4 separate regions of the Homo sapiens genome follow, and regions 2, 3 and 4 are each linked to region 1. Evidence: fine-mapped expression QTL. A gene starts in region 1. Each other region holds a variant in brackets. All regions are shown on one strand. Distances are from middle to middle. Region 1 holds the start of USP10 (ubiquitin specific peptidase 10). Region 2 overlaps USP10 (ubiquitin specific peptidase 10). Region 3 overlaps CRISPLD2 (cysteine rich secretory protein LCCL domain containing 2). Region 4 overlaps LOC105371378 (a long non-coding RNA gene).

Region 1 (4,000 bases):
CAGCTACTTGGGAGGCTGAGGCAGGAGAATCGCTTGAACCCGGGAGGCAGAGGTTGCAGTGGGCCGAGATCATGCCACTGCACTCCAGCCTGGGCGACAGAGCAAGACTCCCGTCTCAAAAAAAAAAAAAAAAAAAAAAAAAAAAGAGCGAAACTCCATCTCAAAATAAATAAAAAAGTTTATAGGTTAATAACCACAGCACTCCAGCCTGGGCAACAAGAGCCAAATTCCAACTCAAAAAAAAAAAAAAAAAGAAGAAGAAAATTATGAGAAATCAAACTATTTCCTTTGCTACTTTCTCCATGCTAAAACTTAAAAGCATTTAAATCATACTTTAAAAGAATAAACCCAAAGTGTTGCTAACATTTACGTTCCGCCAACTTTTGCTACTCCAATTTTCTAAAGATGTGTATAACGCTTTAGACTGTTGTATAAAACGTAAATACTGGGACAATGAATGCAAACGAAATTACAATTAAGTTTACATATTATCCATCCCCATTAATTAACATTTCAATCAACCTTGAATTGTGATTGATGCTTATTAAATAAAGGAAGTGAGCTATGCCTAAAGATGCTTTCTTCATGTCAAAATCACAAGGAATATTACACATTAATTCATAATGAGCCTTTTACTTGTTCATACCAATTCTAATAAGCTAGTTAATTAGGATTTAAGTTGAGAAAAAAGCAAATATCAAATCTTTTTTTTTAACAGAAAGGTCTAAACAAAGCTAAATACACCAAATCTCTTAAAATCTTTGGGCTATACATTTGTAAAAATTATTCAACTACTGATCCCTTTTTTGGCGCAAAGACCTACACTACTTACAAAAGTAAATGAATAAGGGAACAAAACGTTAAAGGGGGAAATTCTGATGCAAACTAAACTACAGCTAATTTAACAAAATTGAAGCTTGTCGTAAGATCTAATTTTTTAAAAAGTTTTCGCATTTTAGATTCCACAACACGCATTCATTACAATAGTTCCGAAAATCATGTTTCAAAAGAGGTGTAGTCAGATTGACTTCATCTGCAGAAGGGCAACAAAACCCAATTGCTCATGAAGGGTTATGATTTTACTCGCAATCAGTTTCCCGAATGGCTACTTTGTTTCATTTCCCCATATTTAATACAAATACACAATGAGATGGTTTAAAAGTGTGCAACAATTTATAGGGACCAGATGTCAACAAATTAGCAGTCTAAAGCAAGGCTGACAAATAATACATCATGCCGATTTTTGTCCAGAATAATTATAATGGCGGAGGGGGGAGAAGATGTGAGAGAAGGGGTGGGAGAGGGGAATAAGAGCTTAACTCTACACGCACATCTCCCAAAAAGAGCTCTTTCTTTCCACCACGGGATTATTGTAAAGGGCCCCCAAGCTTTAGCTACTGTTCAGGCAGGGTGCGTTAGTTGTCAGCCTGGCTGGGATGGATTCGTGCAAGGGATGTCACTCAAACGCAAGTGAAAGTACGGTCCTTGCGACTTATTTCGAGTTTTCTTTGCAACAGCAGCCCAAGGCCGCTACTCTGCTACTTCTATCTAAAAAACAGAAAATCGGCAACCCCCGCATCATCAATCAAGCTGAGAAAGGAAGCTCTTGGGGCAAAGGGGCAACAGGGCACCCCCAAATCTCTGAGGCTCGCTCCAGGCAGAGGCAGCAACCTGAGCTGCTCTGGGGCCCCTGCGCTCCAGGGGACTCCCGGAGCCCCCGGGCCGCCTCCCCCGGCCGGCGCGGCGGGGAGGGCCCCACTCCACACCCCGGGCTCGCCCCGCGGTCCAGCCCCAGGGAGGTTAACCCCTTCGGCGCCCTCCACGCCCTCCCCAAGCGGGGCCCGGAGCCCCCGCCCTTCGACCTCCCCGGGACTAGGGGGTCCGGGTGGCTCAGGGGACGAAGGCGCGGCGGGCGCGGAGGCGGCGGGTGGCTCCGGCCTAGGCCCGGGCAGCGTGTCCCAGCGCCCTCCCCCACTCCCACACGCTCGCTCCGGGCAGGGCGCGGACGCCCGCCCGCCGCGGCGTCCGCCCGCCCGGGGCTCGGGCCCCTTCCGGCCGAAGGCGCAGACCGGCGGCTACCTGCGGGCTGTGGAGGGCCATGGCTGCCCGTTTCATTGGGACTCCGCGATCCTCCGGCTGCTCACGCTGCTTCCCCCGCCGCCGCCATCTTCTCGCCCGCACATACACACTCGCATCGGCCGCCGCGCCTGCGCACTGGCCGCGCGCCGCGGGGCGCGGGGAGGCCGGCCCGCTGCTGCGCCTGCGCGGCCGACAGGTGGGCGTGCGCCTGCCGGGCCGCGGACATCCCCTGCCCCGCCTGGAGCCTGCCGGACTCTGAGCCCCGCGACCCTCGGGCGGAAGCGGCCGGGCGGCTGCACACCAGGAGCCCGCCGAGGCCTGGCTGTGGATCCGGAAGGGGAGAGGGCAGGCAGGTAGAGGTGGCAACGCCAAGGCGCCGGCGGGCCCGGCTCCTCACCTACTGGGGGCCACCTGGGCCCCCGGAGCCCGGGAGTCGCGGGCTGAGGTCGGCCTGGGGCCCACGAGCCGCCCTCAGCGTACCTGGGCCCGGGCCTCGGGAGTGTTCGCATTAGATCCCCGAGGAGGGTCTGGTTTATGAAGATCCCGTTGCCGCGCATTCATTCATTTGTTCACTCTTCATTCACTCCCCAAGTCCTGCCTGGGCGCCTGGGCCACGCCTTTGGCTAGGCATTAGGGGAAAAAAGCAAAACAGACAAAAACAAAACGTAGGGCATAAAAGCACGCGTAAAGTGCTTGACATGAGGCCTGGCAAGTAGCAAACACTCAGCAAGTGCTACGTGTTGCACACGTGCGTGCGTGTGCACGGGCAAACCAGCCTTGGGGGTCGTTGGTTCATTCATTATTAAGAAACAGGGGCCCCTGCCTAACTGCACTGTTTTCCAGCCAGTGGGTCCACCCTTGGGTTTTGGCCCCTTTTCTAGCTGTGATTTCAGACAAGCGACTTTCCTTCCCTAAGCCTTGGTTTCCTCACCTGTGAATAAGACAAATATGTCATAACGCGTAAGATTTCTGTGAGGTTCAAATTAGATTAACGTGAGCACACTGGCCAAGAGAATAGTCAATAAAAATTGGCTACTGGGATTGTTATTAATAACCATTACTATTGGTTTCATTTATTCAACAAACACCTACAGAGAGTCTGCTCTTGCTAGACCGTACACTGAGCAGAGGAGATGAACAGGAAGATCCATTCCCACGTTACATAAAATAGGGAGCCTGGTCTCTTCATAAATGGGATGCCATGAAAAATATAAGTGGGCCAGGCGCAGCGGCTCACACCCGGAATCCCACACATTGGGAGGCCGAGGCGGGCGGATCACTTGAAGTCAGGAGTTGGAGACCAGCCTGGCTAATATGATGAAACCCCAACTCTACTAAAAATACAAAAATTGGTGGGATGTAGTGTGGCACACCAGGCGTCCCAGCTACTCAGGAGGCTGAGGTGGGAGGATCACTTGAACCCCGGAGACGGAGGTTGCGGTGAGCCGAGATCGTGCCACTGCACTCCAGCCTGGGTGACAGAGCGAGTCTCTGTCTCAAAAAAAAAAAAAGAAAGAAAGAAAGAAAGAAAAGAAAAGAAAAATATAAGTGGTAGGGAGGGGTTGTTCCAAAATAGAAGAGCTAGAAAACATAACCAAATACAATGTGTCATCTTGCTTGGATCCTGATATGTCTTTTAAGCTGGTTTTACTATTTGTTGACAATTGGAGACATTTGAATATGGATTGGATATGGGTGATCTTCGTGAATTATTGGTAATTTTATAGTGTAATAATTATACTGTGCTCACTGAGAGAATGTCCTTATTGTGAGGAGATGCATTCTGAAGAGTTGAGGAGTGAAGGCCATAATGCCTGTAAACTATTGTTTAATGGTTCAACAAAAGATAAAATCATGTACACACATAAACATTCAGGGAGAGACAGCAAATATGGCAAAATGTTTACTATTGTTGGCTCTA
Region 2 (7,750 bases), 45 kb before region 1:
TTTCCCAAAAGTTAATAACACAAATACCACTGTCTCAGTAGAAACAGTTAGATACTAATGCAAGTCAAACTCTATTATAACCCACATCAACAGATCTTTTAATGAAACTAGACTTTCACTCAGTTAAACGCTGCTTAAAATAAGTGGGCCTACACTTAAAAGTGTGCCCACTAAAGGGAATTTGTGGTAGTGGATCTGACTTGTAACAAACTGAGTATGTTTTACCACTTTTATAAAGTAAATCCCTAAGTAGGAGAATAAAACAACAAAAAAAATTTCAAACAATGCCATTCTCCCTAAGCCCTATATGATCCCAAGGGTTATTCAATGTGACTCTATTGCTCTACTATCTCACGAGACTCCTGAAACTGTCAACAACTACGTTCTGTCTATCGAAGCCTCAACAAACAGGCTGAAAAGAATTATATATTTTTAAAGAAACTACACTTTTGCTCAGAAAATTAAAACATCTTCATAACTGACCTAACCAAATAGGATTAAAAAAATAATCTGTTTGGTAGGGGTTTACAATATGTCCACACAAAAATAATTACGTGGACTGTGTGTGGCAAGGCTTTCCTCTACTACCAGTCATTAAGAGGCCCTTACTTTCAGTGTTTGACAAAGCTACTTCAATTAGACTTTAACATATACAGAACATAACAAACTATTTATCAAACTATATTTAAAGTCATATGACTAAGTAGAATGTTCTAAAACATTTTAAATGAAGCTTTTCTTGGTTATTTTAAATAAAGATAGAGAAAATCTCCCTAAGATGGGAGGTTTTCCTTTGTGGAGCAATTTTAGAAACGAAACTATAATATTCTCAGCTGGGCGCGGTGGCTCACGCCTGTAATCTCAGCACTTTGAGAGGCTGAGGCAGGAGGATCACTTGAGGTCAGGAGCTCAAGACCAGCCTGGCCAACATGGTGAAACTCGGTCTCTACTAAAAATACAAAAATTAGCCTGGCGTGGTGCCAGGCACCTGTAGTCCCAGCTACTAGGGAGGCTGAGGCAGGAGAATTGCCTGAACCCAGGAGGAGAAGGTTGCAGTGAGCCGAGATTGCGCCACTGCATTCCGGCCTGGGCGACAGAGTGAGACCCCCTCTCAAAAATAAAGAAAAGAAAATAAAATTCTCATGACTTCGAACTTAGAATGCACATTTTTAACAGGACCCCACCATGCATTTCTCATTATAGGTTAAAAATAAACTTTTAACTTAGTAATCTATATAAAGGCTTACACAATCTATCTTTTTTTTTTTTTTTTTTTTTTTTGAGATGGAGTCTGGCTCTGTCGCCCAGGCTGGAGTGCACTGGCGCCATCTCGGCTCACTGCAAGCTCCGCCTCCCAGGTTCACGCCATTCTCCTGTCTCAGCCTCCTGAGTAGCTGGGACTACAGGCGCCCGCCACCACGCCTGGCTGATTTTTAGGTTTTTTTTAGTAGAGACGGGGTTTCACCGTGTTAGCCAGGATGGTCTCGATCTCCTGACCTTGTCATCCACCTACAGTATCAGTCCTTGCAATAAATACATTCTGAAAGCTGTATTCAAGAAATCGCCTGGCCTGAGTGCGGTGGCCCACACCTGGAATCCCAACACTTTGGGAGGCTGAAGCGAGCAGATCACTTGAGGTCAGGAGTTTGAGGCCAGCCTGGGCAGCATGGTGAAACCCCATTTCTACTAAAAATACAAAAAAAGATAGCCAGACATTGTGGCATGTGCCTGTAATCCCAGCTACTTGGGAGGCCGAGGCAGGAGAATCACTTGAACCCAGGAGGCGGAGGTTGTAGTGAGCCAAGATCGTGCCTCCTGCACTACAGCCTGAGCAACAGAGTGAGACTGCATCTCAAAAAAAAAAAAAAAAAAAAAAAAAATCACCTGGCTTTAAAAAATATATATGAAGCCCAAAATAACGACGTCTGGCCTATCATTTGCTCATTTAAGAGAACTTCAGAACAACAAGAGTACCTGAGATAATGTATTTTGTATAAGGAATAAAATACTCTTAAAAATATATATACATTGCTTGCTATCACCCTATTGCCACCCAAAGAATGTGTTTTATTTTTTACACAATTCTGACCATCCATCGAAGGGTGTGCATTTGGCAGCTTGCTGCTACATCCTGGTAATGAAGGGTGTCAGGTGTTCCAAAAGGTCACATCAGAAAGTATTACAGAAAGCCTAAACCAAACAGCTTATTTTAACTTGGCTACTAGGGTGACAATCTGAAGATCTGGTCACCAGGCTTGGTGGAATCCAACCTGATGACACAGCTTCTGCTTCTTAGGTACGTACAGTCACGCGCGGCGTAACATTTCGGTCAACAATGAGCCGCACGTATGATGGTCCCACAAGATTCTAGTGGAACTGAAACGTCCTGCCGCCTAGTGGCGTCTTGATGCTCCTGACCCTGTGCAGGCCCAGGCTAATGTTTGTGTCTTACTTTTTAAGTTTAAAAAGTTAAAAACAATTTTTAATATGAAAAAGCTTATAGGAAAGTAAGAATAAAAAGGAAGAAAATATTTTTGTATAGCTGTAGTGTGTGTTTTAAGCTAAATGTTCTCATGAAAGAGTCAAAAAGTTTAGAATTTTTAATTTAAAAGTAAAATAAAACGTAAAAAAGTTACAGTAGGTTAAGGTTAATTTCTTATTGAGGAAAAATTTGTAAATCAACGTAGTACAGCCTAAGTGTTGACTGTTTATAAAACTCGGCTTTGCTCAGTACTGTCCTGGGCCTTCACATTCACTCAGCACTCATCACTGACCCATCCAGAGCCACTCCAGTCTTGCAAGCTCCATTCACGGTGAGTGCTCTATACAGGTGAAGCACTTTTCATCCTTTATACCATATCTGTACTATATTTTTTCTATGTCTAAATGTGTTCAGGCACACAAATACTTAGCACTGTGTTACAACTGCCTACAGTATTCAGTAGTAACACGCTGGACAGGTTTGCAGCCCGGGAGTAATAGGCTGCACCACCAGCCTAAGGCTCTACCACCTGTATTTGTGTAGTACTCTCTGATGTTAACACGCACATCTCGGAACACATATCCATCTTAGTTAAGCAACACGTGGCTATGTGAGGACACATACCTCTTTCATACCCTGCTGCATTTCTGACTTCCTACTGTAACTTTTTAAAAACAATCTGTGAATTATGCAGCTTTCTATTTTTATTGTGAATTGTTTCTACTTTGGAGCCTTAGCACTCTAAAATAAAACATTAACTTTGGGCTGAACCCTTAACATTTTTTTTCTCTTCAAGAGCTGACCTTGGTGTATCAAAATTCTGAATAAAATCCATTTACTCAATCCAAAAAAAAAAAACCATGTTATTTCACAAAATGATTTCTTGTATCTTAAGAAATATAAAAAAGGAGCACACAGTGAGTACAAATCAGGATTATCATACCAAAGGTATATCACAGAAAAAGTCCATTATACATTCATACCGTGGAGCAGAATTACTTGAACAAAAGGCAAGAAATGGAAATGTAACTTGTCAACAGAAAAGAACTGCTAACAGACATGGATCTTTCACTTAACATAAAGTTACGACAACCCTCTCCTCCCATTTGTTTCTATATTATCTTACTTTTAGAGAACATTTAAGACATAGGCATCCTTCAGACGTTGCTATTAACACACAGGTAATCTGCCATTGTTATGGGTAACACCACAGTCTATAAGCCCAGTTGATGAGGTCTGCTCCCATCTTCACTCTAGATTTGTATCTTTTCAACTATACCTGCAATCTTTATGGCTACAGGATCCTCTGAAACCGGAACAAGCCCTTCTTTGACTTCAACCTGCTTTTCAGAAACCAGGGGAGATATGGCGGGAGGGGAATACTTAGTTTCCACATAGGCCACCGGCGAGGAGGAAGAGGGCTTAGAATCATGAAAGAGGCTGGCCCAGGACTTGGGCTGGCTGACAGGAAGGGTGCCTGATGCAGAGCCCGTGCCGTCAGCAGGAGGTGATGCACTCTCGGGTTTGGTTGGGTCCAAGTCTATGCTTTCCGTGGTGTGCAACTCCACCCCGTTGGTAGCTGTGCCCTCACCCGAGGATTCAAGTATTTGTCCATTAGCAACTCCAAGGTTTTCAGTAGTATCGGTACCAACGCAGGGCTGAGCCCCAGCTGTCCTTGACAGGGTGTCTCTGCCAGCCTCTGCAGGGAAGCAGGACTGACCAAAATCAGCCCCGGGGCCCCCCTCTGGCTGCCCTGCAGTCCTGGTGTCACTGCCGAGTGCTCCGGGGAAAGGACTGTCAGGCACAATGTCACTGACAGAGTCTGTGGAGTTCTGGGGGCTGTTACAAGTCCTGGGCGTAACTGACGGGGGCATGTCACCCATAAATTCTGCATCCTCTGCACTGACACTGTTCGGGACTGCTGAATTGGCATGGCCATTGACCAGGGCTTCTGTGGAGATACTATCATCGCCACCATCTTTCAAATAGCTGTAATATCCAGGTGGCCGCTTTTTCTTCTTTTTACGCTCCCTTTGTCCAAGACCACCTGAGACACCATCATTTTCCAAAACTTCCGCCTCCACATTAGAACTTCCATCCAAAGCGAGGGCAGAGCCTGGGTACTGGCAGTCGATGGAGCCATAGCTTGCTTCTTTAGTGATACCATCAGGGGTTATTTTGGAAGCTGTACAACCGAGAATAAATTCAGGGGCCTGAGGGTTCAGTGTGCTTGAAATACTGTAGCTGGGGGTTCTCGGCAAAGTGTCACTGGGTTCAATGACTTCATCGACACCAAACTCAATTCTCTGATATTCTTGTCCTGTTTAGAAAGAAAACTATTAGTTAAGAACCCAGTTCTACAAACTCTAAGTACCAGTAATTACTCACTTTCTCTTTGAAAATAAAAACCTTAAGTTCTCTTCCTAATCAACAAATCTATTACGTCCTTTACTTACGCTGAACAATTTGCGGAAAATGAAACAACTATAAAATTATTATTTAATTTGGG[G/C]ATATGAAAAGCAGAAGCCTGTACTTATCTTTCTAGCTAAGGAAGGCTTTCAGAAGGTAGAAATTAAAATAAATTTGTAATAAAAAGCAAGTAATATTTTGCCAATTTTAAAAATACCCCCCAGTGGAATCTGACTTTCTTATAGCTGCCTTATGCCTGAGATAAAGGAATATGTATTTTGGACAACTTAAATTTTAAAAGATCATGACAACTAACTTAGGGACTTAAAACATGGTTAAATCAGCTTCTGTAGTTAACGTGATTTGATTAATTCCAAAAACATGAACTACGCAAAGAATCCTATACATACTGGATAGGAGAAATTAGAAAGTATAAATTTAAAAACAAAAAAAAAAGATGTCAAAAAAAGATTCAACAACAACAACAACAACAACAAAGAATCCTATATATAAAAGCGCACTTCAGAGCACTCTTCTGAATTCTCTATCTCTTGGTCTCCTCCGCTGGTAACCTTCAATTAAGTCTGAAAAATGGCCCTGACATGAACACATGCAAACGTCCTCTAAATAAATTCACACTGGATTAACCCCATGGGTGGTAAAGCCTTCCAAAAATACCAAAAGAAAAAGTTAGAATTGTGAACTTTTAAATATCTCTTGGGAAGCCTTCAATACTTCCTTCCCAGTTAACCACAATCCACATAATTCATTCCTGCTAAGACAGACGTATTTTTATAGTTTACACCTCTGAAATCAGGTTAAGTTTTAGAATCAATTGTGTCTTTCAACAGAAATCAAGCATCAATGTCACCTTATATTTGATAAAAAGTTACACATTTTGAAGTTAAGGGAAGGACACATGCCTTATATTTCATCTTTAATGCATGAAGATTTCTTCCAGGCTAGCATTAAGGGGCCAATTTTTTTTTCAAGGCATCTATCTTAAGAAAAGAAACTAATACCCAAAGAACGGTGTTCTACTGCGGAGAACTGAATATATTTTACCTTGAAAGGACCCCTAGAAATCTTTTTGTAGAAGAAAAAATACAGACGCTGAGAGGGGCCAGTTACGTGCAAGTGAGTGTGCAGGAGGCTGGAGCTACACAGCCTCCCGAGGCCTCCTGAATCTTCGTATGCTTTAGAATCACAGCCCCCGACTGTGGGGGGTGAAGGGTGGTGGCAGCACAATCCTGCCCCAACAAGAGAAAGTTCCTGGAAAAGAACACTGATGACGATTACACCTAACAGCAAGTTTATGCATGAAGTCACGACCATCTAATTCCTTTGGCTACTATTTATTTTTTGTTTCCTTACTTTGAAAAGAATATCAAGGGGAAATGAATTTATTATCATATGTAGGGGCTGGCTGTTCATTTTGGTTCCATACATCCCCTATTCCCTGATGTTCTGGGGCCGTCAAGGCTCCCCAGATTGAAACGGGTGTGCCTGGGGCGGAAGGCTCCATGTGGAGCCTGCCCTTTGAAGGCTGTGAAATCACATTAGAAACTAGAACGTGTTGTGTCATTCAGCTTATGCAAGACTGATTATTTCTAAGACACAGATGTGCTGTACACATCTCAATTCTCAATCTTATCAGAACATAAAACATTCTAGAATGTGATGTAACGTGAACAGAACCATTTCAGTATGTTATAATTAGTATCAAACATTTACTCAATACCATGTTTGATCATCTCACTAGAAGGCAGATTCCTAGCCAGCACAGTTCCTCTTCTTATGGAGGAACACTCACAATGGACGCCATGTGCCTTGCACCGCATGGCAGAGAGCTCAGAGCCCAATGTGCCAGGCAGACGAAGTGCAGGACGGCCTGCACGCTTGGCTTCAACAACCCAATCAATACATTAGGAAGATGGAAACTCAATACTCAGGTAATGCAGGCAGAGGCTCTTAAAACCACGAATCCTAACACAGCATTTCTCCAAGGCTGCTCACTGCAGTACATGCAGTAGAGAGGACTGGACTACAAGGCAGGGGGCGAGGGAGGGAAATATACAGAGATTAGTGACACAAGGGCCCTGCTCAGAGAGTTCACATTTATTAGGGAGACAAATACAAACAACTGAGAATGAAAACATGGAGGGAGGGGAGAGAAAGCTGTGAATAGCTTTAGAAAAAGGATTCTTCTGGATGCAGGAAACAGTGATCAACTTCTATCAGAAACTAGAGAGGTCAGTGGAACTTGATGGATCACTGAATTGCTAAGGGCAGGGTGAAGGAGTGGTATCTCAAGCTTTAGGAACATCTAAAACAGGCAGTGCTTGAGGTGAAGGACAACCATTCACCTTGATGTGATTATTACTTGTTGTATGCCTGTATGAAAATATCTCATGTACCCCATACATATATACACCTATTATGTACCTACAAAAATTAAAATATAAAAAAATTAAAAAACACAAAAATAGAAAAGGCCGAGATCTAAAAGGGAAGCCACGATGAGGTGCCTCTGCAAAGGGCTTGCTGCAGCTGGAGGTAGTGGGAGGGAGCAGAATAAAGCATCCTAAACCATTCATCCAACAAATGTACTGAGGGCTTACAACATTCCAGATACTACAGGCGCAGTGACAGACACAGAGAAATGGATCCTGCCATCAGCAGCTGAGCAGGCTGGAAAGAGAGGCAGGTCCATGACAGTGCCCACAGGCTCTGTACAGTCGAACAGGCACTGGAAGAGAAACTAATGTCATGGAAACACAAGATACCCAGAAAGGCTGCAGAGAAAAGCAGGCCTGTCACTAACTGTGCAAACTGGTGGCAAGATTCCAGTCGTGTTTT
Region 3 (4,000 bases), 180 kb before region 1:
AGGTAACATCAAGCAAGGCAGCATACACCAGGGAAAGAGCAGAGTCGAAAGCCGGACACATGTTCACCTGTTTGTCACCTTTGCCACGTGCTCACTGTGTGGATTTGGACAGGTTACTATGAGCCTTGTTTTCTTCCTACAGGAATAAGGATAACGATACCTAGAGACGGTGTTTTTAAAGAAAGGACCTAAAACATAGTATGTGTTGAATAAAAGGTAGCCTTCTGGCTGGGTGCAGAGGCTCATGTTGGTAATCCCAACACTTTGGGAAGCCAAGGTGGGTGGATCACCTGAGGTCAGGGGTTCGAGACCAGCCTGGCCAACATGGTGAAACCCCGTCTCTACTAAAAATACAAAAATTAGCTGGGTGTGGTGACGGGTGCCTGTAATCCCAGCCACTCGGGAGGCTGAGGCAGGAGAATCTCTTGAACCTGGGAGGTTGCAGTGAGCCGAGATCGTGCAATTGCACTCCAGCCTGGGCAACAGGAGTGAAACTCTTGTCTCAAAAAAAGAAAAAAAAGTAGCCTTCTATTGTTGCAAATATCCATTAAGTTCTTGCTTTTTTTTTTTTTTTTTTTTTTTTGCTTTATTGGTTTAGCTGCTATATTGTTTGGTGTGTACAGTTTTTATTCCTTTTCCTGTAAATTGTATCTTCTGTGCCATTGTGTAACATTACTTTGTCTCATTCAGTACATTTAACTTTAAATTCCACTTTTTCAGAGAGGAATATTGCCACTCTTGCTTTTCATGTGTTTGTTTGTATTTGGCTGGGATTGCTTTGCCCAGCTCTTTATTTTTAAATCATTTGAAAACCTCAGCCTCTGTCTCTTAATGGTAGAATTTGGTTCAAACATTTGGTGTAATAATCGACAATATTATTTTACTCCTTCATAAAAATTCTAACTCTTATAACTCAATTTTAGCTGAATCACTTTCAAGAAGAAAAAAAGACCCATTTAAAGAGGAAAGAAAAAAGATGGGGGGAGATAAGCTTAGTCATGAAGCCTGCTCTGACCTTACAGAGCCCAGTGACCTCATATTTACAGGAATCTGGAACACATTAAGGCAGACAGAGGCAAAGATGATGGCGGGGAAGCGGGAGAGAGCTGTAAAGGAGGGGATGATGACAAGCAGCTGAGTAAAGCTCTATCTGGAGGCCGGGTGCAGTGGCTCACCCCTATAATCCCAGCACTTTGGGAGGCCAAGGAGGGAGGATCGCTCGAGCCCAGGAGTTCGAGATCAGCCTGGGCAACATAGTGAGACCTTGCCTCTATTCAGAAAATAAAAAAATAAAAAACATTAGCTAGAGATGAATGATGCTGCCCTAATCACAGAATTTTAGATCTAGAAGATTCCCTGGATTTGATAATCCCGGTTCTGGGCCGTTCCGCCACAAGGAAACAGCTTGACAAGATCACACAGCCTGCTGGCAGCAGAAGTGGGACCACAGTCACATTGTCTGGGTCACCATGTCCCCAAACCCTGGACAACCAGAGGGAACAGACAATGTTCTGCAGGATCCACCTAAGAAAAACCGGGCTAAAGCTCCCTGGTTAAAATTCGGAGGGAAAAAACAGAGGAAGAGATTGGTATAACCAGAGTGGCTATCAACAAGCAGTAAATTAGGGTGGTCTGTATTATCTTCTTTGTGCTTTTAGCTAAGTGTGTGCATAACTGAGAAGAAATACAGTGCGTGGACCAGTTTCTATAAATGCATCCGGAGAGCTGGGAAGATGACTAAATAGCCGGAAAAATGAACTATCTGAAGCATGAGAGCCTTCAAACTGCGAAAACATTTAAGTAAGGCCAGGCACTCCTGAATCTGCATTTGTGAGGACAGGTAGGTAGAAGCACTACTATCTCTAGAAATGGGGAAATGGGGAAAATGTTTGCAGAAATGAGTGGTCTAAACTTAGCTAAGAGGTTGGCCGGGTGTGGGGACTCACACCTGGAATCCCAGCACTTTGGGAGGCAGAGGTGGGCGGATCATCTGAGGTTGGGAGTTCGAAACCAGCCTGGCCAACATGGTGAAACCCTGTCTCTACTGAAAATACAAAAATTAGCCAGGCATGGTGGTGCACTGTGTAACCCCAGCTACTTGGCAGGTTGAGGTACAAGAATCGTTTGAACC[T/C]GGGAGGCAGAGGTTACAGTGGGCCAAGATTACTCCACTGTACTCCAGCCTGGGCAACAGAGTAAGACTCCATCTCGAAATTAATTAATTAATTAATTAATTAATTTAGCTAAGAGGCACTGGAATAAAGTTTCAAGTATCCAGATCTTGGAGCTTGCATGTTGAGGTCTTTAACAGGCTTTGCGAGATAGTTGTTGAAAATGCATCCTACTCACATCTGCATAGATGTTGGTTCCAAACACCGGAGCCCAGTAGGAAGGTTCGTCTTTGCAGTGTGCCGGACAATGGATTCTGAAAAACAGGAAGCATTTATGTGATGGGTCTGAGCACAGAAAACCAAACTTCTTAAGCTGGCTCTCTTTATTTGAATTCCAAGATTTAAGTTCGTAGATGAAAGGAAACCGCCATACAGTTTTCCTCATTAAGAAAAAAAACAATACTTCTCCCCCCTCAGCAGAGGTAAAGATATTACTATTTTTGCTTCTCTTAAACAGTGTAGATAGAATTTTTAAAAACACACACACATCCACAAAAGACATGCACAAACAAAAAGGTAAAGAGAATAAAAATCTAAGAGAGAAGAGTGTGGAATTGTGAGGCTGCCCCTCCCATTCTTGGATGTTGGCTAGTTCACACTGTGGGTACATTATGGAGATTAGCATCAAGAGACTTTTTCTAAGGCCGCTTCCCTGTGTGGAGGAGGAAAGGGTGGAGGGCCCTCACCTCGCTGAGTCACAGAATATTCCAAGGCGGGGGCACTGATAACCTGGGGTGGAAGGGGTTAGATCACTGTGTGTCAGTCACCACAGATCCTCCAGGGCATGAGGAAAGCACCTCAAACTGGAAATGGGTGACCCCTGGGTGGTTTGACAAACTCAAGCCAGGAAAGAGCACGGGCTTTACTTAAGAAAAGATCTTCTGTGTTTATCTGGAACAGTCCACCGTGGGCTGGAGCCCAGGGACCAAGAAACCAAAATGGCAGCCGGAAGCCATCTGGCCCCAGGCAGGCAGGATTATGGGAAGGAAGAAGGCCAGGCAAAGGGACTGAGAAGTTGAAACAGTTCTTAGGGGCTGGGAGGAAGGGAAATGAGTGGGTAGAGAGAAAGGGTGTGTGTGTGGATTTAAAAAAAAAAAAGAAGGCCAGGTGCAGTGGCTCACACCTGTGATCCCAGCACTTTGGGAGGCCGAGGTGGGTGGATCACCTGAGGTCGGGAGTTCGAGACCAGCCTGGCCAACATGGTGAAACCCCATCTCTACTAAAAATACAAAATTAGCCAGGCGTGGTGGTGCAGGCCCGTAATCCCAGCTACGCGGGACGCTGAGGCAGGAGAATGGCTTGAATCTGGGAGGCAGAGGTTGCAGTGAGCAGAGATTGTACCACCGCACTCCAACCTGGGCAACAAGAGCGAAGCTCAGTCTCAAAAAAAAAAAAAAAAAAGAATTGGAAAGAGTCTAAGAACAGTCTCCATTCTTTCCTACTTCTTTTGGAATGGCAGATCAGAAATTAACATTTTGCATATTGCACTGTGTCAAGTTTTTCTGTTTGTATTTTCTGAAATTCTTTCCTTCTGCTTCTCTCTAATATTCAGGGAAAATCTACTAAAAGGCTGTTATCCCCACTCGAACATTCAAGGGGGATCAAGACGGTGGTGCGGAGGCAGTGGAGGCCCAGAGAAAGCCTGAAGTGGGGTGGCAGTCAAGGGAAAGCAGTCTGGGCCCCTCCCAACCAGTCACCCTCCTGGGCCTTTCCCTGCTCGGAACCTTGGGGTCACCACCTATTGTCCCTTGGAGAATCCACAGGTCTCCAGCCCAGGATGAGGGCTCATGAGGGCCACACCACCCAGCCTCCAGGGCAGCTGTCTTCATCCT
Region 4 (7,367 bases), 100 kb before region 1:
GAGGATCCATCTGCACATGTCTCAGCTTCTGGTGGCCGGCAATGCCTGATGTCCCGTCTGTGGCCATTCCAATCTCCGACTTCCTCTTCACATGGCCACCTTCCCGGTGCATCTGTGTCCAAACTTTCCTCTTCTTATGAAGACATCAGGCACTAGATTAGGGCCCATCCTAGTTGAGTGTGACATCATCTTAATGTGATTACATCTGCAGAGACCCTAGTTCCATATAAGGTCCCATTCTGAGGTCCCAGGTGGACATGGATTTTTGGGAAACGCGATTGGACCCAGCATTCATTGTAACGGGGCCTCTGCAGACGTGATTCTGCTAAGGGTGGTGACATGGGAAGAGCGGCCTGAATTCTCCTGTGGCCCCCACGGAATCACAAGCCTCCCTTGTAAGAGGGAGGCCAGAGGGTCAGCGTCAGAAGAGAAGGTGCTGTGATGATGGAAGCCGAGGTTGGAGTGATGCACTCTGAGGATGGACGAAGGGGCCATGAGCCCAGGAGTACAGGCAGCCTCTAGAAGCTGGAAAAGTCAAGGAGACGATTCTCCCCTGGAGGTTCCAGGAGCAACCAGCCCCGCCCACACCTTGACTTTAGCCCAGTGATGCCGATCTCAGACTTCTGACCTCCAGAACCGTAAGATGGGATACTTAAGCTGTTTCCAGCCGCCAACCTTGTGGTCACTTGTTACCGCAGCCATGGGAAACCAGATGCATCCATGAAGAGCTGTGTCTGTGACACGGCGTCGGCAGGGCTGCAGAACCGGGCTCCTGCGCCGCCCTTCCAGGGGAAACAGCCATGAATGAGCCCTCAGGCAGCCAACTGTTTCCCTGCAGAGCACCCGGGCCCGGCAGGCAGCCGGCTCCCAGACCACACACACTCCGCACAGTCCTGAGTCATCTGGCCTGAAGGTGCTTCCCTAGAGCCTCTTTACCGGAAATGGCCTGCGTTCGACCTGATTATTTTTCTAGCAATCGATGAACACTTCCCAGATGCAAAATTGGATAGCGGCCAGTTCCAGGCTGTGCATGGCCCAGGACGACCAATGCAAGAGCCTCCGGGGGGTTCTCTAGCCCGAGTGGTGTCACTGCATTCCCACTGTCCCCGAGCACCCACGGCATCACCGCCACCATCAGGGGAGCCTGAAGTGCCTGCAGAAGCTCTGGCCAGGCCCAGGGGGTGGACAGGAAGTCCAGTCATCCTCGGCATCCTGTGAACCGCTGCTTCTTGCATTTTTAATCTCGGCGGGTCCCACTTGCGTGTCTGAAAATGCAACTGCCTTATTTTCCCTAACAGGGCAGTTGAGGGGTGGGGTAGTACTTAACCTTGACAACAGGACATCTCTTGGTTTCTTTTTTTTTTTTTCTGAGTCGGAGCCTCACTCTGTCACCCAGACTGGAGTGCAGTGGTGCAATCTCAGCTCACTGCAACCTCCGCCTTCGGGGCTCAAGTGATTCTCCTGCCTCAGCCTCCCCAGTATTTGGGATTACAGGCATGTGCCACCATGCCCGGCTAATTTTTGTATTTTTAGTAGAGACGGGGTTTTATCATGTTGGCCAGACTGGTTTCAAACCCCTGATGTCAAGCGATCTGCCTGCCTCAGACTCCCGAAGTACTGGGATTACAGGCTTGTACCACCATGCCTGGCTAATTTTTGTATTTTTAGTAGAGATGGGGTTTCACCGTGTTGGCCAGGCTGGTTTCAAACTCCTGACCTCAAGTGATCCGCCTGCCTCTGCCTCCCAAAGTGCTGCTTACAGGTGTGAGCCACCATGCTCAGCCTCAGTCTCTCTATATCATCTCTGTTAATTTGCAGTGGTCTCTGCAGCAACTAGCCCACCCATGTGCACTCAGAGCCACTCAGGGCCCTCGCTCTTTCCCTCCTTCCTCTCCTCTCCCCCTAGATGAGTGGGAAGGAAGTTTAGGGACTTCACGGTTTTGCAGAGAGGCAAAGACGGAGCCCACCCACCGATCTTTTTACATGACAGGAGCCGTGATTAATTTCCCGGGGATGTCCTAATAAACTGCTGCAAACTGGGTGGCTAGCAATAGAGATGTGTTCTCTCCCGGTTCCGGAGGCCAGCGGTCTGAAATCAAAGCGTCTGCAGAGTGGAGAGAGGGAAGATCCTTCCTGCCTCTTCCAGCTTCCAGGGGCCCCAGGTGTTCCTTGGCTTGTGGCCGCATCACTCCCATCGCTGCCTCTGTCCTCGCGTAGCCTTCTTCTCTTCTTATACGGACATTCATGGTTGCACTTAGGGCACACATGGTCATCCAGGATGGCCTCATCTCAAGACCTTCTATTGATTACAGCAAAGATACTTTTTCTTTCTTTTTTTTTTTTTTTTTTTGAGACAGAGTCTCACTCTGTTGCCCAGGCTGGAGTGCGGTGGCCTGATCTCGGCTCACTGCAACCTCCGCCTCCCAGGTTCAAGTGATTCTCCTGCCTCAGCCTCCCGAATAGCTGGGACTACGGGCGTGCGCCACCACGCCCAGCTAATTTTTGTATTTTTAGTAGAGGCGGGGTTTCACCATGTTGGCCAGGATGATCTCAATCTCTTGACCTTGTGGTCCACTCACTTCGGCCTCCCAAAGGGCTGGGATTACAGGCGTGAGCCATCGCAGCCAGCCTATTTATTTATTTATTTATTTATTTTAGATGTGGTCTCGCTCCATCACCCAGGTTGGAGTG[C/T]GGTGGTGTGATCTCGGGTCACTGCAACCTCCGCCTCCTGGGTTCAAGCGATTCTCGTGCCTCAGCCTCCCGAGTAGCTGGGATTACAAATGTGCACCACCAAGTCCGGCTAACTTTTGTATTTTTAGTAGAGGTGGGGTTTCACCATGTTGGCCAGGCTGATCTCGAACTCCTGACCTCAGATGATTCACCTGTGTCGGCCTCTCAAAGTGCTGGGATTACAGGCATGAACCACCGTGCCCAGCCAGATTCTTTTTCCAAATAAGGTCACATTCACGGGTTCTGGGCATCAGGGCTTGGATATATCATTCTGGGGGCCACCAGTTAACCCACTCCAGCAAGCTTGGACATACCGGGCCACATCGGCCTACAGGGCTTGGGGAGTCACCCAGGCTGGGGCTGCTCCACTGTGCACGAGGGCTGTCCTCCACCTTGCACTGGAGGGAGCTGCCTCGTAACACGTTCGCTCTCAGCCTCCTCCTTAATCTGCCTCCTCCCTTGACTCCAGGGTCCCGACCAGGGGCAGAAGCTCTTTTTCACCTGTCCGCTCACCTTGCTGGAGCTGGGAGGGAGGATTTTCCACCTTCTTATGTTTGGGGTGTTCCTTCCATGAGGCACTGGGTTTTCCATCCCCTCTGGCTGATAATAAGTTTGAAGTTCAATAGGCCTGACCTTTTTTTTTCTTTTAAATTTCTCACTGACTTTGTTGTTTTTTTGTTTTTGTTTTTCTTTTTGTTTTTGTTTTGAGACGGAGTCTCGCTCTGTCACCCAGGCTGGAGTGCAGTGGTGCAATCTTGGCTCACTGCAAGCTCCGCCTCCTGGGTCCACGCCATTCTCCTGCCTCAGCCTCCGGAGTAGCTGGGACTACAGGCGCCCGCCACCATGCCCGGCTAATTTTTTTGTATTTTTAGTAGAGACAGGGTTTCACCGTGTTAGCCAGGATGGTCTCGATCTACTGACCTCATGATCCGCCTGCTTCGGCCTCCCAAAGTGCTGGGATTACAGGCGTGAGCCACCGCGCCTGGCCCTTTTTTCACTGACTTTGTAAAACAATCGTTTTTTTAAAAAAAACTTTTAATTTCCAGGGTACATGTGCAGGATGTGCAGGTTTGTTACTTAGGTAAACGTGTGTCACGAGGGTTTGTTGTACAGACTATTTCGTCACTCAGGTATTAAGCCCAGTATCCATGAGTTCTTCTTCCTGATCCCCTCCCCGCTCCCACCCTCCACCCTCCGACAGGCCCCAGTGGGTGGTGTTCCCTTCTATGCGTCCATGTCTTCTCATCGTTTAACTCCCACTTATCAGTGAGAACGTGCGGTATTTGGTTTTCGGTTCCTGCGTGAGTTTGCCAAGGACCACGGGCCTGACTCTTGATGCAAAAGGGGTGCAAAGGATGTGGGCAACCCCGTTCCCCTCTTCATTCCTTCCCAGGGCTCTGGTCTCACTGAGAACTCTAAAAGCTAAACAAGTTGCTTTCCTGCTGAGGTTCTGCTAAGCTTTCCTAGTCCCCCGAGGCAGGTAGGGGCTCCAGCTGAGGAGGAAAAAGGTCGGCTAGCCAGAAATTCAAATGACGGAAAGACATCCCTGTGTTCTAAGAAATAGGATCCCCTGACGTCCACCGACCTGGGCAATGTCACCAATAGGAGGCCTCAGAAGCACTTTTAACATCAACCTTACAGGGGGTGGGGTTTATACACAAGCACGTGTACCCATTTAAGTGGACAGCTGGATGAGGAACAGATGTCTATACCCGCCCAACTACCACCATGATACAGAATGTTCCCATCACGCCCATCTGCGTCCCACCTCCCCCAGCAACCATGGATCTGCTTTCTGTTGCTTTGCTGTAGACTTGCTTGCCTGTTCAAGAATATTCTGTAACTGGAAGCATACGGCATGGTCGAGGACTCCTTTTTTTTTTTTTTTTTTTTGAGATAGGGTCTCGCCCTGTTACCCAGGCTGGAGTGCAGTGGCGTGATCTCAGCTCACTGCAACTTCCGCCTCCCAGATTCAAGCGATTCTCCTGCCCCAGCCTCCTGAGTAGCTGGGACTACAGGCAAGTGCCACCACGCCCGGCTCATTTTTGTATTTTTAGTAGAGATGGGGTTTCACCATGTTGGTCAGGCTGGTCTCGAACTCCTGACCTCGTGAACCACCCACCTCGGCCTCCCAAAGTGCTGGAATTACAGGCACGAGCCACCACGCCCAGCCAGTCGAGGATTCTTGACTCCTCTCTTCCCTTCCTGCTCCCCTGAAACTCGTCCCACACCTGGTCCACTTGACGCAGGTAGAAGCCACATCAGTCCCTCCTTTCTCCTGCAGCCCATCCGCCATTTTGGTTGGGGGCTCTGGACTCACCCTATGGGGAGGCGCTGTGGCCCAGTGGCCAGCTGCCCACCTCCTGGGTTTGGATCCTAGCCCACCATTTCCTCACTTGAGACGCTGGGCATGTTCCTCAGGCTCTCCAGGGCTCAGCTTTCCTCATCTGGGGAATGGGGCTGAGAACATCAACCTCCGTGCTTCAGGAGCAAACAACAACACTAAAAGTTCTGGCTGGGTGCGGTGGCTCACACCTATAATCCCAGCACTTTGGGAGTCCGAGGCAGGCAGATCATCTGAGGTCAGGAGTTCGAGACCAGCCTGGCCAACATGGTGAAACTCCGTCTCTACTAAAAATACAAAAATTAGCCAGGCGTGGTGGCGCATGCCTGTAATCCCAGCTACTGGGGAGGCTGAGGCAGAAGAATTGCTTGAGCCCCGAAGGCAGAGGTTGCAGTGAGCTGAGATCGCACCACTGCACTCCAGCCTGGGTGACAGAATGAGACTCTGTCTCAAAAAAAAAGAAAAAAGTTAGCATTCCCTGAGGGTGAGCACAGTGAGCTCCCAGCTGGTCAAGCCTGGCCAATGAGGAAAGATTTTTAAATGAATGCAAATATATTTCTTTTTATGCTAAAATTAAAATTAATAATGCCTATTTCTTTTTTTTTTGAGAGGGAGTCTCGCTCTGTCGCCCAGGCTGGAGTGCAGTGGCTCGATCTCGGCTCACTGCAAGCTCCACCTCCCGGGTTCATGCTATTCTCCTGCCTCAGCCTCCCAAGTAGCTGGGACTACAGGCGCCCGTCACCACGCCCGGCTAATTTTTTGTATTTTTTTAGTAGAGACGGGGTTTTACCATGTTAGCCAGGATGGTCTCGATCTCCTGACCTAGTGATCTGCCCACCTCGGCCTCCCAAAGTGCTGGGATTACAGGCGTGAACCACCGCGCCCAGCCAATAATGCCTATTTCACTCGGTTGCTGTGAGGTTCAAATTAGGCATGTAAAATGCCTGGCTGTTTCTTTCTTTTTTTTTTTTTTTAAAGAAAAACCTACACATGTTAATTATTTTAATTGTTCCTCTTCTCTGGTCTCCACTTTGCAGCCAGAATCATTACCTGAAAACCCAAGCCTGACCAGACACTTCCCTGCCCATTAATGACCTTAGTTATCTTCATTACTGGCAACTTTCTGGGTTCATCTCTCTCTACTGCACCCAGCTCCCTGCCCCATACCCTCCCCACCCACCTGCAAGCACATGCACCCCTCTACACATCAGTAGCACTAAGCTTTTTCCTTCTCTCTGAGCCCACAGGGGCCTTTTGTGCCACTGGACCTTTGCACATGCTCTCTCTCCACCTGGGAAACCCCACCTTTCAAGACCCAGCACCGACATCACCTCCTCTGTGAAGGCATGTGGTTGGCAAGGTAGGCAGTTGCTTCTATCTTTTGTCTTCCTTAGCAACATCTTGCTGTCATGCAAATTGCTTTGCTCACCTGTTAAAATAAATGAGGTGAATTGAATTATCGGTTCTGGTTCTCCACTCTGCTGTCTGTTCTACAGCCCAATGGCCTTGGGGTCTACCATGGCCTCGTGGTGGGCAAAGAGTACTTTCCACCTCTTGACTTTGAGCTTAGCCATGTGACTTGCTTTGATTGATGGGCTTCCGCCATGGCCACAAGGAGAAAATGCCCCAGGCAATCCACGGGTCACAGAACAAAGTGTCCAGTAGAATTGGATCCATCCTGTAGCTTGAGCCCAGCATAGATCAGGTGACCCCACCCCACCCCATTTTCCCAGATGATTTGCAGACAGAGAGCAAGAATAAAGCCACAGAGTTACAGGTGGTTTGTTACTCAGCATCACCGTGGCAATAGGTAACTGTGACAATTGTTCCATCTCCTCTTTTACTTCGAGCATCTATAAGCTGGAGACCACGTCTCACTCCCTGGGTATCCCCAGTACCAGCATAAGGCTGATATTTGAAGGGGAAGGAAATTTCAGAGGGCCCTGTGAAATACTGATTGTTAACTTCAGCCAGCAGGGAAAGAGACAGAAACAGGAAATCCAAGCACTGGCAGGCCCTCCCAAAGATAGCTTAGGGGCCAAGATCATAGGCCTGGTAATTGGACAGCACAGGTTGGAATTCCAGCAACTTCCTTCAGTTCACTGAGATGCCACTTCATCAGCCATGGAGGGGAGCTAAGAATCTTGTCAGTCTCACAGTGTTGTTGGGAGGATTAAATGATTGAATGTAGGCAAATCCCTGCATATAGTGTTTGGCACGTTGCCAGTTCCTCGAAGACACTCCATCAAATTGATATTGGAGAGACATGCAAAGTAACCCAAGAACTGTACTT

Evidence for each region. PIP is the estimated chance that this variant, and not a neighbour inherited with it, causes the effect.
Region 2: its variant is the best candidate, but not a certain one, in a credible set for the expression of USP10 in aorta (GTEx, PIP 0.68).
Region 3: its variant is the best candidate, but not a certain one, in a credible set for the expression of USP10 in whole blood (INTERVAL, PIP 0.64).
Region 4: its variant is the best candidate, but not a certain one, in a credible set for the expression of USP10 in monocytes after LPS (Fairfax 2014, PIP 0.51).

The regions. Positions count from the first base shown.
Region 1 is chr16:84,698,191-84,702,190 of GRCh38, reverse strand. It overlaps USP10 (ubiquitin specific peptidase 10), which reads right to left and starts at 2,191. Exons shown (of 14, transcript NM_005153.3): 1 at 2,080-2,191. The coding sequence starts at 2,100. RefSeq lists silencers at 1,620-1,729, 1,770-1,879, 1,890-2,109, 2,200-2,719.
Region 2 is chr16:84,741,685-84,749,434 of GRCh38, reverse strand. USP10 (ubiquitin specific peptidase 10) reads right to left here. Exons shown (of 14, transcript NM_005153.3): 4 at 3,762-4,802. Among named protein-coding and RNA genes, the nearest start is that of USP10, 46 kb to the right of the region's middle. The variant G/C (reference allele first, on the strand shown) is at 4,992.
Region 3 is chr16:84,878,931-84,882,930 of GRCh38, reverse strand. CRISPLD2 (cysteine rich secretory protein LCCL domain containing 2) reads right to left here. Exons shown (of 15, transcript NM_031476.4): 13 at 2,347-2,422. Among named protein-coding and RNA genes, the nearest start is that of LINC02176, 47 kb to the left of the region's middle. RefSeq lists an enhancer at 2,131-3,330. The variant T/C (reference allele first, on the strand shown) is at 2,132.
Region 4 is chr16:84,800,261-84,807,627 of GRCh38, reverse strand. LOC105371378 (a long non-coding RNA gene) reads right to left here. Exons shown (of 3, transcript XR_001752293.2): 3 at 7,366-7,367. Among named protein-coding and RNA genes, the nearest start is that of CRISPLD2, 16 kb to the left of the region's middle. RefSeq lists enhancers at 457-1,033, 1,034-1,612, 2,780-3,280 and a silencer at 873-1,072. The variant C/T (reference allele first, on the strand shown) is at 2,692.